Homo sapiens: one gene and its partner. The protein of the gene in region 2 interacts with the protein of the main gene of each other region in a pairwise test. Each region holds a gene or a part of one and is shown on either strand. Other genes may lie near its edges.

Evidence for each region.
Region 1: the proteins of CLASRP (region 2) and CFAP20 interact in binary tests that used the Homo sapiens proteins (3 or more experiments, as listed by UniProt).

What each region holds. Positions count from the first base shown.
Region 1 is NC_000016.10:58,119,007-58,126,381, forward strand, and holds part of CFAP20 (cilia- and flagella-associated protein 20), read right to left. Parts: intron 1-7,375. UniProt on the Homo sapiens protein: Cilium- and flagellum-specific protein that plays a role in axonemal structure organization and motility. Microtubule inner protein (MIP) part of the dynein-decorated doublet microtubules (DMTs) in cilia axoneme, which is required for motile cilia beating.
Region 2 is NC_000019.10:45,055,604-45,063,353, reverse strand, and holds part of CLASRP (CLK4-associating serine/arginine rich protein), read right to left. Parts: intron 6,905-7,750; coding exon 6,820-6,904; intron 5,605-6,819; coding exon 5,456-5,604; intron 4,087-5,455; coding exon 3,990-4,086; intron 2,966-3,989; coding exon 2,887-2,965; intron 2,801-2,886; coding exon 2,727-2,800; intron 1,201-2,726; coding exon 1,159-1,200; intron 1-1,158. UniProt on the Homo sapiens protein: Probably functions as an alternative splicing regulator. May regulate the mRNA splicing of genes such as CLK1. May act by regulating members of the CLK kinase family.

The sequences.
Region 1 (7,375 bases), on a different chromosome or scaffold from region 2:
CTTGTTCACTCATCAGCCTGCTGATTACGATTTGGCTATTAGACTTGCATATGGGGATAAATCAGTGTTGGGTCTGGTAGTTTTATTTTTCAACATAAATTATTAATAATATGTTTCTGTTTTTAGACATTAGTCTCTGTGAGCTCTGTCACTGTGAGTCTGATCCACTCATGGTCTGCCTGGTGTTCTAAAGGTGACATCTGATGTCACTGCCCACCTTTTCCACAACTGCAACCAAGTCTTGTCTCCTTAAAAAAGAATAAGCTCAAGCAAGAGCCAAGACCAGTTATGAAGCATCATTTCTATCTTCGACAATGCTTAGCACAGTGCTAGCCATAAACTAAGCGTTCAAATATTTGCTGACTTCTGGAATCTGTCACCCTAAGAGCTGGCACATATGAATAGGTTCAAGGAGGGTTTTAAAAATTCCTGGATAACACATCCCCCGTGGACTATTATAGGAAGCCAGAGATCTGGGGCATATCACAAAGCCCACAGGGCCGCCAGCATGAAGAATGCTTCCACAAATGGGTGCCCATTGTCAGAGACAGAATACTGGGCTAGACGGGACCCCAATCCCTGCCAATGGAGCATTTCTTAGGCTCTCAAGACACAAAACGTCACATTGAAACGATTCTCAAACAAAGCTGGCAATGTTCAATGCCCTCCTGCTTTGAATTCTGGGCCCCTTTCCAAGGAGATTAAGAGCACAAAGGCCTGGGTCTGTGCAGAATACGCCACTACTGCCCGCCTCACTCGCCATCTACTGTTCCCAACCTAAGTGCCCACCTCACTCGCCATCTACTGTTCCCAACCTAAGTGCCCACCTCACTCGCCATCTCATGTTCCCAACCTAAGTGCCCACCTCACTCGCCATCTACTGTTCCCAACCTAAGTGCCCACCTCACTCGCCATCTCATGTTCCCAACCTAAGTGCCCACCTCACTCGCCATCTACTGTTCCCAACCTAAGTGCCCACCTCACTCGCCATCTCATGTTCCCAACCTAAGTGCCCACCTCACTCGCCATCTCATGTTCCCAACCTAAGTGGCGATATTCCTCCTGTATTTTCTGTGGAAAACCAAGCAGATTCAGTGAAGAAGGAATTAATGAAGAAATCATTTCCAACTAATGCGAGCAGCCCTACTGATAAGAGCTGGCAGTATTCCAACAAGATGCAAACACTACTTTTATAACACACCACTAATTATTCTCAATAACATAACCATTCTTTAAAACGGGACAAACTGCAAAGAGCAAATAGACAGTTAAATTGACAGGATTAAGAAGTAACTTGGGCCTGAAAACTGCTATTGCTAAAAAGCAACATGTTGCTATTGATCCACCCTTATTTAAAGCATGCCCTCAAATTTCACATCACTCAAGCTCTCTCTGGCCAGTGTCAACAAGAGGCCTCCCTCAGTTCCAGAAAGACCAGCCAGATCTCACAGGGAGAAAATGTTAGGGAATCTGCCTTCTGCCCATCTCAAAGTTTACGACTTCCCTGGAACTCCAGCAGATATGACCTATTCAGGTCTTCACAGAAGAAAACAAAGCCGTACAATGCACACAGAAGCCAATGCAGGCTGGAAGCTGGATAGACTGTAGTATTCCTGCACTTCTGCCCAGAGGCAAGCTAACTTTTAGTTGGATTTTCAATAAATTACTAAAGAGATTTCTTTTTCTCCCAGTGTTACTAGATAACAAACACACTCACAAATTTAAGTTTTACAAAATGAATGAATGTATTCCACAAAACAAGGGAACTTGGAGGGGTCAAGGCAACTTTGTTGAAGGAATGCCCATCAGTCTCTCTAGATTTTGAACCTGGCTGGTGGTAAGACAAACTAAACAGAGCTTTTCCCCAAGAGACTGTTTAACCCCCGATGAAGAAAAACACAAGTATCCCCATGTGAAAAGTCTCCAGAGGTTTGAAATCAAATTAAGTGGATTTGTTAGTGAATTGTGATTTTTCTCCTTTATTAAGTTTAAAGGGCTGCAAATACAAACTCACTGGAAAAGAGTAGCGTGGAGGTGGTAAGGGCGATCAATCAGATATGTGCATTAGAGGGTAATTTCCCAAAGCCTCTTCTCTAGGCTCTAAAACTAGGATCAAAGGGGAGAGGCGACAGGCAATTTGGGGCAAAGGCTCCCCACCACCCTGGCCATGTGGCTGTCATTGCCTAATATTATAAAGGTCTTCCAGGAAAGCAACCGTCTCCTAAAACCAGCTTCTGAAAACAGCATACAGGAAGATACATGTCTCAGAAAGTATCAACGTCCTTTCCTTAGCTCCTTCCAGTTCAGAGGTCACTGGGCAGGCGTGGCTTTGGGATGAAGATAAAATGAACTGCTCAGCATTTATTGCTCATGGCGGAAGCAGGTTTTAACATGTTCTGTCCTTCTCTAGATCACAAAGAGCCGACTGTTTTTGATTTGTTAATTCTTTTTCATTCATGACACATTCCCACTATCAAAGTGTGGCCTATGAGTGCTTTATTCCTCAAAAAAAATAAAATAAAAATAAAAATCTAAAGCCAATATTGTTTTATTTCATTAATTTCCCCTCCCCTGCCCATGAGCTGGAGATACTCAAAGAGCTTCAGAATCCAGTTACTGGCAATTACAGATCATAATGGTTCTCTGCCTCTGCAGACAACAGAGGTGACCAAAGCTTCAGGCCAGTCTTACAATCACTCTCCCAGGCTTTCCATGGTTGCTAGGGCAACTAATAAAGAACACCGATTTCTCTCCCTCCCCGCAATGTAAGCCTCAGGGAGGTGGGTCAAGCTGAGGGAAAAAAAAAATACTACTACTGGGATAGGGAGGGAGCTGGTGGATGCTGTATATTTCTATGACTGCTTTAAAAATAACATGAGTTGTATCCATTCCCTCCCCCAACTTTCATTTTTCTGGCCCCACCCACTCAGCCTGGCAGGCAGCTGAACCCTCAGCCATCTGGCATCCTAGCTTTAATGACACATGCTCTAATTTACATTAAACCATTAGAGCTGTCCATTTCAGCAGGAAAGTTCCTGCACTGGGTTAAGGGCTGGGTTCCCAGACAGAAATTAGGCAGAGGGAGACCCCTGTGGGGAGAACTGAGCATAGCTCCGACTCAGACTCCCAGGCTCCAAGGGTCAAAGGCTTCACTCCCTTCGCTGTACTTGACAGGGGCTATCCAGACAGCAGACAAGCAACTCTGGGCATACACCAACAACCCCTAAGTCAGCGTAAGGACAATTATGTGCACAGCTAAGAAAAGGCAAGTGTAATTAAAACCCATGTCTTCGGACGGGCGCGGTGGCTCACGCCTGTAATCCCAGCACTTTTGGAGGCTGAGGTGGGAGGATCACCTGAGATCAGGAGTTTGAGACCAGCCTGGGCAACATGTGAAACCCCATCTCTACTAAAAATACAAAAAAATTAGCTGGGTGTGGTAGCGCATGCCTGTAATCCCAGCTACTCAGGAGGCTGAGGCAGGAGAATTGCTTGAATCCAGAAAGAGGAGGTTGCAGTAAGCTGAGATTGTGCCATTGCACTCCAGCCTGGGTGACAGAGCGAGACTCTGTTTCAAAAAAAAAGAAAAACAAAACCAAAAAACCATGTCTTCGTTCAATTACAGTAAAACCTGACTCAGAATAATGAAGAACATTCTCCAAGTCAGAAAAAAAGTTTTACCACCTTTATGTCCAAATACACTCAATTCTACTACTGAAAACAGCACCAATTTAATTTTTATCAACAAGGCATGCTAACTAAAAACTAGAATGTAGGAAATTTTTTCTGAAGAGAGACTTTATTTTTAAAATTAGAACAGGACATGGGAATCTAACACTATCCAGCAACAGCAGAAGACTCTGGTCTAATATTTAGTCTTGGAGTAGGGGAGAAACAGCAGCAGCTGAGAGAAAGACAGGGTGACAGGAAAGACAGACAAAGGCGTTTTCATGAATTAATGCAATCTCATCTCATGTACTTTTAGGATACTATCTTGTTTTTTTTGAGACAAAGTTTTGCTTTTGTTGCCCAGGCTGGAGTGCAATGGCACCATCTCGGCTCACCGCAACCTCCACCTCCCGGGTTCAAGTGATTCTCCTGCCTCAGCCTCCCGAGTAGCTGGGATTACAGGCATGTGCCACCATGCCCGGCTAACTTTTGTATTTTTAGTAGAGACGGGATTTCTTCATGTTGGTCAGGCTGGTCTTGAACTCCTGACCTCAGCTCGCCTTGGCCTCCCAAAGTGCTAGGATTACAGGCGTGAGCCACTGCGCCCAGCCAGGATTACTACCATTAAGACCGAAAATTGGCTGGGCGCAGTGGCTCACGCCTGTAATCCCAACACTTTGGGAGGCCAAGGCAGGCGGATCACGAGGTCAGGAGATCGAGACCATCCTGGCTAACACGGTGAAAACCTATCTTTACTAAAAATGCAAAAAATTAGCTGGGCGTGGTGGCGGGCGCCTGTAGTCCCAGCTACTCCGGAGGCTGAGGCAGGAGAATGGCGTGAACCCAGGTGGTGGAGCCTGCAGTGAGCCGAGATCGTGCCACTGCACTCCAGCCTGGGGGACAGAGCAAGACTCTGTCTCAAAAAAAAAAAAAAAAAAAAAAAAAAAAAAAAAAGACTGAAAATTACAGCATGTTTTACACAAGTATAAGTGGGAACAGAACCTCCTGGTATTTTCCTTACAACCAGAAGTAATGTTTACATTAAACGTAAGAGTCTTTTAATAAATATAAGATTTGCTGGTCCCAGATGTCAAGGTAACATTAAAGAAACCCCTAATTTCTTCTAAGCTGTTGGTTTAGAAACTTACAAAAGCTTCTATCAGGAAACTGTATAGCCAGGAATACAGACCTTAAGAAGCTAATAATGTCAAGTGTGATAAGAAAGAAGTAAATTAACTTACCCTGAAGAGTTAAGGAAGGTCACTCTGAGAAAGGCCTTTGAACTGTGACTGGAGCCTAATGAAAAGATGGGAGTGAGGCTTGTGGGGTGGTGAGGGGCAGCGCCCAGCAGAAGGACCAGGAAGTGCAAAAGCTTGAAGGTGAGAGAACAGGACTTCCTTCAATTCAGTAGGAGGCTACTACTAAGAGGGGGAACCGGGTGAAGTGAGTCCCGCCTGGAGAACAAGTGAAGCAGGTGCCAGAGCATGGGTTATGTGGCCTTAGAGCCACATTAAGGGCTTAGGGCTGGGCGAGCCACGGTGCAACAACTAAATTCTTCTCATTTCAGGAGTCTGGTTTTACAGTACTTCCTATTCCTAGAAATCTGGATGGTGGGCTAAGTTCAAACATCTTATTTTAGTTTTGAGCAAATTCCTCAGTCCCTGCCATATTTAATTCTGTATGTCATTACTTATAAAGTACTAACTACAGTCATGCATTGCTTAAGGATGGGATTACGTTCTGAGAAATGCCTCATTAGGCAGTTCCATGGCTGTGTGAATATCAGAGTGTACTTACACAGACTTAGACAGTACAACATCCTACACACCCGGGCCATATGGTATAGCCTATTGCCCCTAGGCTACAATCTGTACAGCATACTACTGTACTGAATACTGTAGGCAACTGTAACATAATGGTACGTATTTGTGTGTCTAAACATAGAAAAGGTACAGTACTGTATAAACGATAAAAAGTGACACAACTGGATAGGGCACTGGCCATGAGTGGAGCATGCAGGACTGGAAGTTGCTCTGGGTTGAGTCAGTGAGTGAGTGGTGAGTGAATGTGAAGGCCTAGGACATTACTGAACACTTTGTAAACACAATACACTTATGCTACAATACATTTATTTTATTTAGTTATTTAGTTAGTGCTGGGATTACAGGCATGAGCCACTGTGCTTTAGTTATTTAGTTAGTGCTGGGATTACAGGCATGAGCCACTGTGCCTGGCCAGACTACACTAAATTTATTAAAAATATTTTTCTTTCATCAATAATAAATTAACCTTGGCTTACTGGAACTTTTTTACTTTATAAACTTTAAAAATTTTAAAAACTTTTAGACTATTTTGTAATAACACTTAGCTTAAAACACAATGTTCAACTGCACAAAAATATTTTCTTTCTATATATCTTTATTCCATAAGGTTTTTCCTATTTCTTTTTTTAACTTTTTAAACTTTTTTGTTAAAAACTAAGACACAAACACACACATGAGCCCAGGCCCGCACAGGGTCAGGATCATTAACATCAATCACAGTCTCCACCTCCACATGCTGTCCCACTGGAAGGTCTGCAAGAGCAATAACGCACATGGCGCTGTCATCTCCTATGACAACACTGCCTTCTTCTGAAATATCTCCTGAAGGACCTGCCTAAGGTTATTTTACAGTTAACTTTTTGTTCTTGTTGTTAAGTAGGAGTACATTCTAAAATTATGATAAGGCCAGGCACGGGAACTCATGCTTGTAATTCTAGCACTTTGGGAGGCTGAGGCAGGAGGACTGCTTGAGCATAGGAATTCAAGACCAGCCTGGGCAACATGGAGAAACCCCGTCTCTACAAAAATACAAAAATTAGTGAGGTGTGGTGGTGAGGGCCTGTAGTCCCAGCTACTTGGGAGGTTGAGGTGGGAGGATTGCTTGAGCCCAGGAGATGGAGACTGCAGTGAGCCCTGATTGCACTACTGCATTCCAGCCTGGGCAACAGCAAGACCTTGTCTCAGAAAAATAAAATACAATAAAATAATGATAAAGAGTATAGTAAATACATAAGCCAGTAACATAGTCATTTATCATCAAGTGTTAGGCACTGAACATCATTGTATATGCTATACTTTTACATGACTGGCAGTGCAGTAGGTTGGTTTACACCTACTCACAAACACGAGTAATGCATTTGACTTAACGAACAACTATTATGTCACTAAGCGACAGGAATTTTTCAGCTCCATGATAATCTTATGGCACCACTGTCATGTGTAAGGTCTGTCGTTGACTGAAACGCCATCATGTGGTGCATGACTACATATACTGTAACTCTGTTGCTAAGGACTTTATATACAGCTTCATTGAATCTTCATAACCGTGAGAAATAGACGAGAAAACTGAATGGTTAAGGACATAGCTAAGATCACACAACTGGAACACAGCACAGCCAGGATGCAAATCCAAGGTGTCTGACCACGCCCTAGCATTGAGGTTTTTCGGTAAGGTACTGTTCTTCTGCTTAAGGAACCTGCAGTCCAGTGGACGATCTACAATAGAAAACTGCCAGCCACAGGCACACCCATGAGGCTTAACTCAAGTTCTCAATGAAAAGAATGTTTAAGTTGAGATTGGAAGGATGAGATGGAGGGGAGGGGCTGTGAGCTTCAGAGAGTCAAATAAATTGCCGGTGTGACAAACACTAACGAACAAGCCA
Region 2 (7,750 bases):
AACACTGAGTGTGGTGCAATTCTATTTTAGTAAAATAAAAACAAAGTGGCCAGGTGTGATGGCTCATGCCTGTAATCCCAGCACTTTGGAAGGCCCAGGTGGGAGGACTGCTTGAGGCCAGAACTTCAAAACCAGCCTGGTCAACATGGTGAGCCCCATCTCAATATTTTAAAGAAAAAAAAAACAAACGTGTTTTTTAATATATAAAATTTTAAAAATAAAAAGAAAGTATCTGATATTCCTGACACTCCCATGTATGGAGCACTAACCTACACCTTTTATTTCCCCAGAAGCCATTCAACACCTTATCTCATCTAACCTCGACCCACAGCCCCATGAGGAAGATCCCATTCCCACCCCCATTCCGAAGAGGGAACTGGGCTTCAGAGAGCTATGGAGCTTGGATGAGGGGGACTGGGATCAGACTGAGCTTGGTCCCTCACAAAATCCCTTCTCCAACCACTCTTTCATCCACGAGACAACGACCTGTGCCCAGCGGTGCTACTGAGTGCCCGTTATTTCCCACTGGCCACTTCTGGAAATTGAGATTAAAGTGACTTGATTTCTCAGTCACACTGTTTTGCCATATTTGGTCATTTTTACCACAAGGCTGCACTGTATTTAAATCAGAAAAATAAAATAAAGAAGCTTCAAAGATAAAGAAAATTTTATTGGCCGGGCGTGGTGGCTCACGCCTGTAATCCCAGCACTTTGGGAGGCTGAGGTGGGTGGATCACGAGGTCAGGAGATTGAGACCATCCTGGCTAACACGGTGAAACCCTACTAAACTCTACTAAAAATACAAAAAATTAGCCAGGCCTGGTGGCGGGCACCTGTAGTCCCAGCTACTCAGGAGGCTGAGGCAGGAGAATGGCGTGAACCTGGGAGGCGGAGCTTGTAGTGAGCCAAGATCGTGCCACTGCACTCCAGCCTGGGCGACATAGCGAGACTCCGTCTCAAAAAAAAAATTTTATTTAAAACTGGGAAAACAAGACAGTGATCTGGAAAACACAAAAATGATTCAGACCCAGAACATATCATGCAGTCTGTGATCTTGGGGTGGCCTAGCAGGGTGAACCTCCCATCCCCTCCTCAGCACCCCTGTCCCCATCAGGAGGCTCCCTGTCTGCTATTCCCTGGTCCTCCAGAGCAACTTACCGCTTATAGGGGTCATAGGTGGGGCTGTCTCGGCGGGCATAGCTACAGAGAAAAGAATGGGGTGGGACAAATTAGGGCTTAAGATCTCAGCAGTCATGAATTTGGGATAAGCCCGCCAACCTGAGGACCCAAAGCTAGGTACCTGGCACAGTGAGGGGGCTGCTGACCAGGTTGGGGGCCTCCCCTTAATTCCTCCACCCACCCCCACCTCAGATCTGTCCAAAGCATGAACTTAAGCCCCACCCTACAATGTCCTAGACCCATCATGACTCTGAGGAACTTGGACTTCAGCAGCTCTGGTTCTGCTTGGCCTCCTGACCCTAGAATGAAAGCATCCCTCCTCCCAATCCTTGTCTCTGGCTCTCACTGGGTCCGGGCTTACTAATGATGATGATGATGATGATGATGATAAGATTAAAATAGGCTGGGTGCGGTGGCTCACGCCTGTAATCCCAGCACTCTGGGAGGCTGAGGTGGGAGGATCACTTGAACCCAGGAGTTTGAGACCAGCCTGGGCAACACCGCAAAACCCCATCTCTACTAAGTATTTTTTATTTTAATTAGCTGGGCGTGGTGACGCATACCAGTAATCTCAGCTACTAAGGAGACTGAGGTAGGAGGATCGCCTAAGCCTAGGAATTTGAGGCTGCAGTGAGTCGTGATTACACCACTGCACTCCAGCCTGGGTGACAGAATAAGACCCTGTCTCTGGGGGAAGAAAAAAAAAAGAGAGACTATCACAGCTGAGGAAACTGAGGCCCAGAGAGGTGAAGTCACTTGTCCAGCATTACGTAGCTCATAAAGGAGGAAACTGGGATCCAAACCCAGGCCCTATGGCCACCCAGCCTGGGCGTTCCTGCACTACCCTCTGTGTGCCTCTGTGCCACCGCTGACAGCAATGACGATTGGTGCTATTCTTTAAGGAATGTTTCCGATACCAACCGCTGAACCTACAAGTTGTTTAAGCCTTACAGGAACTCTCAGTCACTCTCCTTTAAGAGATGTGGCAAAAAGAGGCATGGGTTTGCACAGGGCCTCTCCTCAAGGCCTCCTGACCCAGGCTGGGCTTTCCTCTCCAAGCCAGCCTGCCTCATCCAAACCTGTCCCAAGACCTCCCTGTGGGGACTGCCCAGCCCTCTCTCCAGGTAGGTGATAATGCCTTGTTTTCCAAAGGAAAAAATTGAAGCTCAGAGAGTTCGGGAAGTCACTTGTCCAAACTCCGACACAGGAAGAAGCCAAGCAGCAGAACTGGGTGAGAGTCCAGGGCAAAGCCTGTGCCCTCTCTGCCGCCTTGGTGAGAGCCTTATGCCGCCTGTGCATGGGCTCCTGGGAGTCTGGCAAGGGCCCCCAGTCCAGTAGGGTGAGGGGAGGGGCTGGCAAGGAAAGGAGTCCACATGGCCCTCAAGGCCGTTCCTACCTCTAAACCTTCACGATGGCCATGCATCGCCCCACTAGAAAGACTCCTTTCTCAAGTCAAATGCCTGCCTCCAAAGAGCTTTCTCAGGCCCTAAGCCCCTGCTCTCCTCCCCCAGATGCCAGCAGGGTGGGGGTTCAGGGAGAAGCCCTACCTGGGTGGGCTGATCTTGCGACCCCTCAGCCGCTTCTCCCGAAACTCTCTCCGCTGGCGTCGAGAGCGGCGTCCCTGGAGTAGGGTGGGTGCCAGGTTGGTGAGGGGGTGCCCTCCCTGTGACACACCCCTGTCCCCTTCCACTCCAGCCCAGACCTCACCGAGTACATGGCCTTCTCCTCCTCAAGAGCCTTGGCATGCTTGATGGCCTCTGCCTCCTCCTTGTCTTTCCGGAGCATCCTATAGAGGTGGGTGAGAATTAGGGTGGAGGATGGGGCAGGCCACAGGGTAAGGAGGACACAGACTGAGTCATCAGAGAAAGTGAGGGACCTGAGTCACCCCACGCCAGCCTGAGGTATCTTTCATTCAATGCCACTTATCAAGCACCCTCTGTGTGCCAGGTGCTATCTTAGGTATCAAGAACTGAGCACTGAAAAAAAAAAACAGAAATCCTCACCTGCACGGGCTTACATTCTAGGGGAGAAGATAATGAGCAAGGGAATAAAATGTGTGGTCCATTAGATGGTAGAGCAAAGGCAGAGGAAGCTGCAGTTTTCAAGAGGGAGCTCAGGGAAGCCACACAAAACAGGGTATCTAGAGAAAAACCTGGGGGAGCAAGCTGCAGACGTCCAAAGCGAACAGCAGACAGAGTGGCCCAGGGGCTGGCCCAGGCCTCTGCACTTGAGGAGCAAGGAGACTGTGCAGGCTGGGCAGCGGGGGATGGTGGCGGTTGAGAGGACCAGATGGGTAAGACCTTTCGGCCATGGTGAGGACACTGGATGTTCCTGAGGGAGGTGGGAGCCACAAAGGGCTCTGGGCAGAGGGTGCCATGCTCAGGCTCCGTTTCTGGTTCACTGCCCAGTGAGCTGGGACCATTCTGTGTGGTCTTGTGAGCTCAGCAGGGGGTGTGGCTCAGGGTAGAGGTACAACCAGCAACTGCCAGGATAAATAACCAGGGAATGAAGCCTCTCCACTAGAGGGCGCTGTCCCCCAGCCTAGGAATCCCCAGAGCTTCGAAGAGTCAGATTCGCCCCAGGTCGCACTAAGTAGGGCAGGCTGGGTGACTTGGGTGCAGCCTGTTTCTGCACAGATGAAGTGGGGCCACGACCACCATAGGCTCAGGGACCTGCATGTGTAAAGTCCTGGGCCCAGGGCCAGGCACACAAATGCTCACAAACAGGATGGCTGTCAATACCGGGAGTAATAGTGAGATGCCAGGGTGGGGCCCACAGAATGGGTAGGGGTGTCAGCAGGCAGGCCTCACCTGACGAAGTCACCGTCGGCCATGCCATAAGTCGTGGCCTGTTTGTTGAGATCTGCCACCTGCTCCTGGTTCAATTCATCCACGTCCACCTCCACGTCTGCACCAAGAGAAAGGCTGTCAGGAGCCACGGCCGAGCGAGAGGACAGGGGAGAAGGGGCAGTGCTCCAGGAGGCGGGGATGATGGGGCGCCCGCCAGACTGAGGGATTCTTCAGGAAGGGATGGCATCAAGTCTGGCTCATCTTGGCATGCCCTAGGCTGGCACTGGGCTTGCCAGAGGTGAGCACAACACACAGTGGACAGAGGCAGCTCGGGGACAGGGCTTGAAGGGGCAGATGAACGGAGGGAGGGAAAGAGAAGGGAGAGATGGACGGATGGGTGCAGGGATGGATGAAGGGATGCAGGGATGGATGGATGGATGAATGGAATGGAGGCAAGGAAGGAAGGAGGGATGGGTGGATGGAGGGAGGGAGGAATGGATGAGTGAGGCGTGTGGTGGGGTTGACGTGAGAGGGAGGACTGAACAGGGGCGGAAAGATGGCGGCTGGAGATCACGGTGGGTGGCAGGCAGGGTGTGGGTCACAGGTGTTTGGAAGCAGGGCGTGTGATAAGCCAGAGGAAGGAGGGCTGGGCGGAGGTCAATGTGTGGCTCCACAGAGTGTGAATAAAGAGCCAGCTACTGGGCTGAGCGCGGTGGCTCACGTCTGTAATCCCAGCACTTTGGGAGGCCGAGGCAAGTGGATCACGAGGTCAGGAGTTCAAGACCAGCCTGACCAATATGGTGAAACCCCCGTCTCTACTAAAAGTACAAAAATTAGCTGGGCGTGGTGGCGTGTGCCTTTAGTCTCAGCTACTTGGGAAGCTGAGGCAGGAGAATCACTTGAACCCAGGAGGTGGAGGTTGCAGTGAGCCAAGATCATGCCACTGCACTCCAGCCCGGTAACAGAGCAAGACTCCATCTCAAAAATAAATAAATAAATAAATAAAAAGAGCCAGTTGCTGGAGTAAGAACCAGGATGAGAAAAACAGAGAGACTTGGGGGTGGTTTGATCAGTGGGAATCCAGAGGGGAGGTGAATGGCAGAGAGGAGGGTGAACAGATGCCTGGCGGATGGGGGCTGACTCTGTAAGAGGATGAACACTTGTTTTCCAGAGGAGGGAAGAGAGCAGGAGAGAGGGGCAAAGGCAGAGAGAGGCCGGCCCAAGTGGAGGAGAATGGAGCCAACACCTAGGAGGGGAAAAGATCATAGAAATAGCACCCTAGAAATGAGAGATGAGTGAGGCAGAGGAAGGCCGGAACGGAGGAGGACAGGAGTGAGACAGGGGCAGCAGGAGGCTGGTGTGCCCTGGGGCGGGGTAGGGAGAGAGACACGGTTCGTAAGCACGGGGTGCCCCACAGAGGGTGAGGGACGAGACACAGAAACGATGCCCAGGGACTGCAGGTGGGGAGGGCAGAGAGGGGACCCCACCGATGTCGGGGATGACCTCATCTTCGTCCGAGTTGCTCTCCTCCTCGGCCGCTGACTCCTCCTCCTCTGGCTTTTCTGCCGCCTTCTCTACCTCGGCCACCGTGCTGTCCTCGTAGGTATAACCGATGGAAGCCTTCTTCTCTGCCAGCCTGAGAAAGGGGAGCTGGTAAGCCAGGGCCGTGCCCAGTGGAGATGAGGGCCCCAGGCTAGCCCCACACACCAGTCTCGAGTGCCACGGCCCCCTCCCCTCAGGCTCTCCCTCAGCCTAGGACCCTCTGCTCCTGCCCACACCCAGCTCCTCCCTCTTCCTCCACATCTGAGCTCTAGGGCCCCACCTGCCAAGAAGTCCTTGACTGGTACCCTAGGGTGGGTCAGCACTGTCCTGAGCTCCCCAGCCCTGCCTTTGTTGGGTCATCTCTGTTGGGGAAGGTCTGTCTCCCGCCTAGACCATGAGTCCCACAAGGGCACAGCCCAGAGTCCTCCTGAGCAGCCAGGTGCCCCAGCTTTGCCCTGAACAGAGCAGGGCCTGAGCAGGATCCTGAGGCTGGGGCCGTGGACGAGGGCTGAAGTCTCCAAGAAGCTCCCAGTACAGTCCCATGGGACCCCTCCCAGTGGAGGAAGGCGGCAAGCAGTCAGGGGTAGCAGGAGGGAAGGTGTCACTGAGGGAGCTGCCCAGCCCCGAGCCAGGGCTCCAGGCTACCGTGCACCAGGGCAACAGCAGCTGGCCTGGAGGAGAGCTAAGCCCTGCAGAGGGAATAGCGTGTGTGAGGGCGGGAGGCCTGCACTCATCAGACTGAGGTGGAGAAGAGAGAAGTGAGACTGCTCGGCCACTGCTCCTCAGAGGCAGCTGCTCCAGGATAAGGCCCGGGTCTCCCCAGCTACTCCTTGAGGGACGCGGCTTTAAGAAGCCTCTCTCCAGAGTGACATCAGCTAGGGCTGACTGCAAGCTCACTACATGGCAGGTGCTGGAATAGGTACTTCACAAGCCCCATCTCCTGCATGCCTCCCAACTCCAGGCAGTAGGGCCTCCTGCCAGCCCCATTTTACAGGGAAGCACAGCAAGGCTCAGACAATTCCCACTCAGGGCCTCACAGCCAGGACTCAAACCCAGGGCTGTCTCACCACAGGGCCTGCACCTCCCACCACTTCCCAAGCTGAAAATGTAACGCAGAGCCCTCGGCAAGCCGGGGCCCCCTGACAGGGCTTCTTCCTCTACACAGTTATTAATTGAGCACTGACTGTGTGCTGAACACCATCCTTGGTTTCGGGGAGACCCTGGTGGACAGGATGGAAGAGGCCATGCCTGGCTGGGGCTCCCAGCCCTCCTGCCTCCTCAACCCCCTGCACCCCAGACCCCGACTCACTTCTTCTTCTCATCTTCGCTGGGTCTCTGGAGGCCTCCGTACAACTCATCAATGTAGATCTGGTACAGGCACTGCTCCTCTGAGACTGCAGCAAACAAGAGACCCCAGGTCAGAGTGGGTTGGGGACACTAGGAATTCAGTGGGGGAACACAAGGGTGCGGTGGGGCAGGAAGACAGGTGCAACCCCAGTGCACCTTGGGGGGCAGTCACCACTTCCAGATAATCAAACTATGTCTGGTGGGACACAAGCAACTGCAGCAGAGCCTTGGACACACGACCTTGGTCAAGGGACTTAACACATCTGTGCCTCAGTTTCCTTTTCCGTAAAATGGGACCACGGGCAGAGTGAGTGCCTGGCCTGGTACTTGGGCACTCTACCACCATTCTCACTGTTTCTGGAGGCCTCTGGCTGGACCCTTCAGAACCATAACCTGCTCCTGAGTGCCACACGCCATTCTGACTGCACAGGTCACTCCACTGCATGCCTCTCTGTGGCTCATTTTAAGTTAGGTGTGGGCTGGGATGACCTGGGCTCTCCTGCACCCCCAACACCCAGCCTGGGGGACTCAACAATGTACCAGAGCCTTCCTGATCTTCCCTGCAGTGAGACACGTGTCCCTGACTCGCTGTGGGACAGTGGGTTGTAAGTCCCCTTCCTTCCTTCCCTCCCTAGGCCTCAGTTTTTCTTTTCTTATTTTTTTAAGACAGAGTTTCACTCTTGTTGCACAGGCTGGAGTGCAATGGCGCGATCTTGGCTCACCGCAACCTCCGCCTCCCAGGTTCAAGCGATTCTCCTGCCTCAGCCTCCCCAGTAGCTGGGATTACAGGCAGGCGCCACCGTGCCTGGCTAATTTTGTACTTTTAGTACAGACAGGGTTTCTCCATATTGGTCAGGCTGGTCTCGAACTCCCGACCTCAGGTGATCCACCGC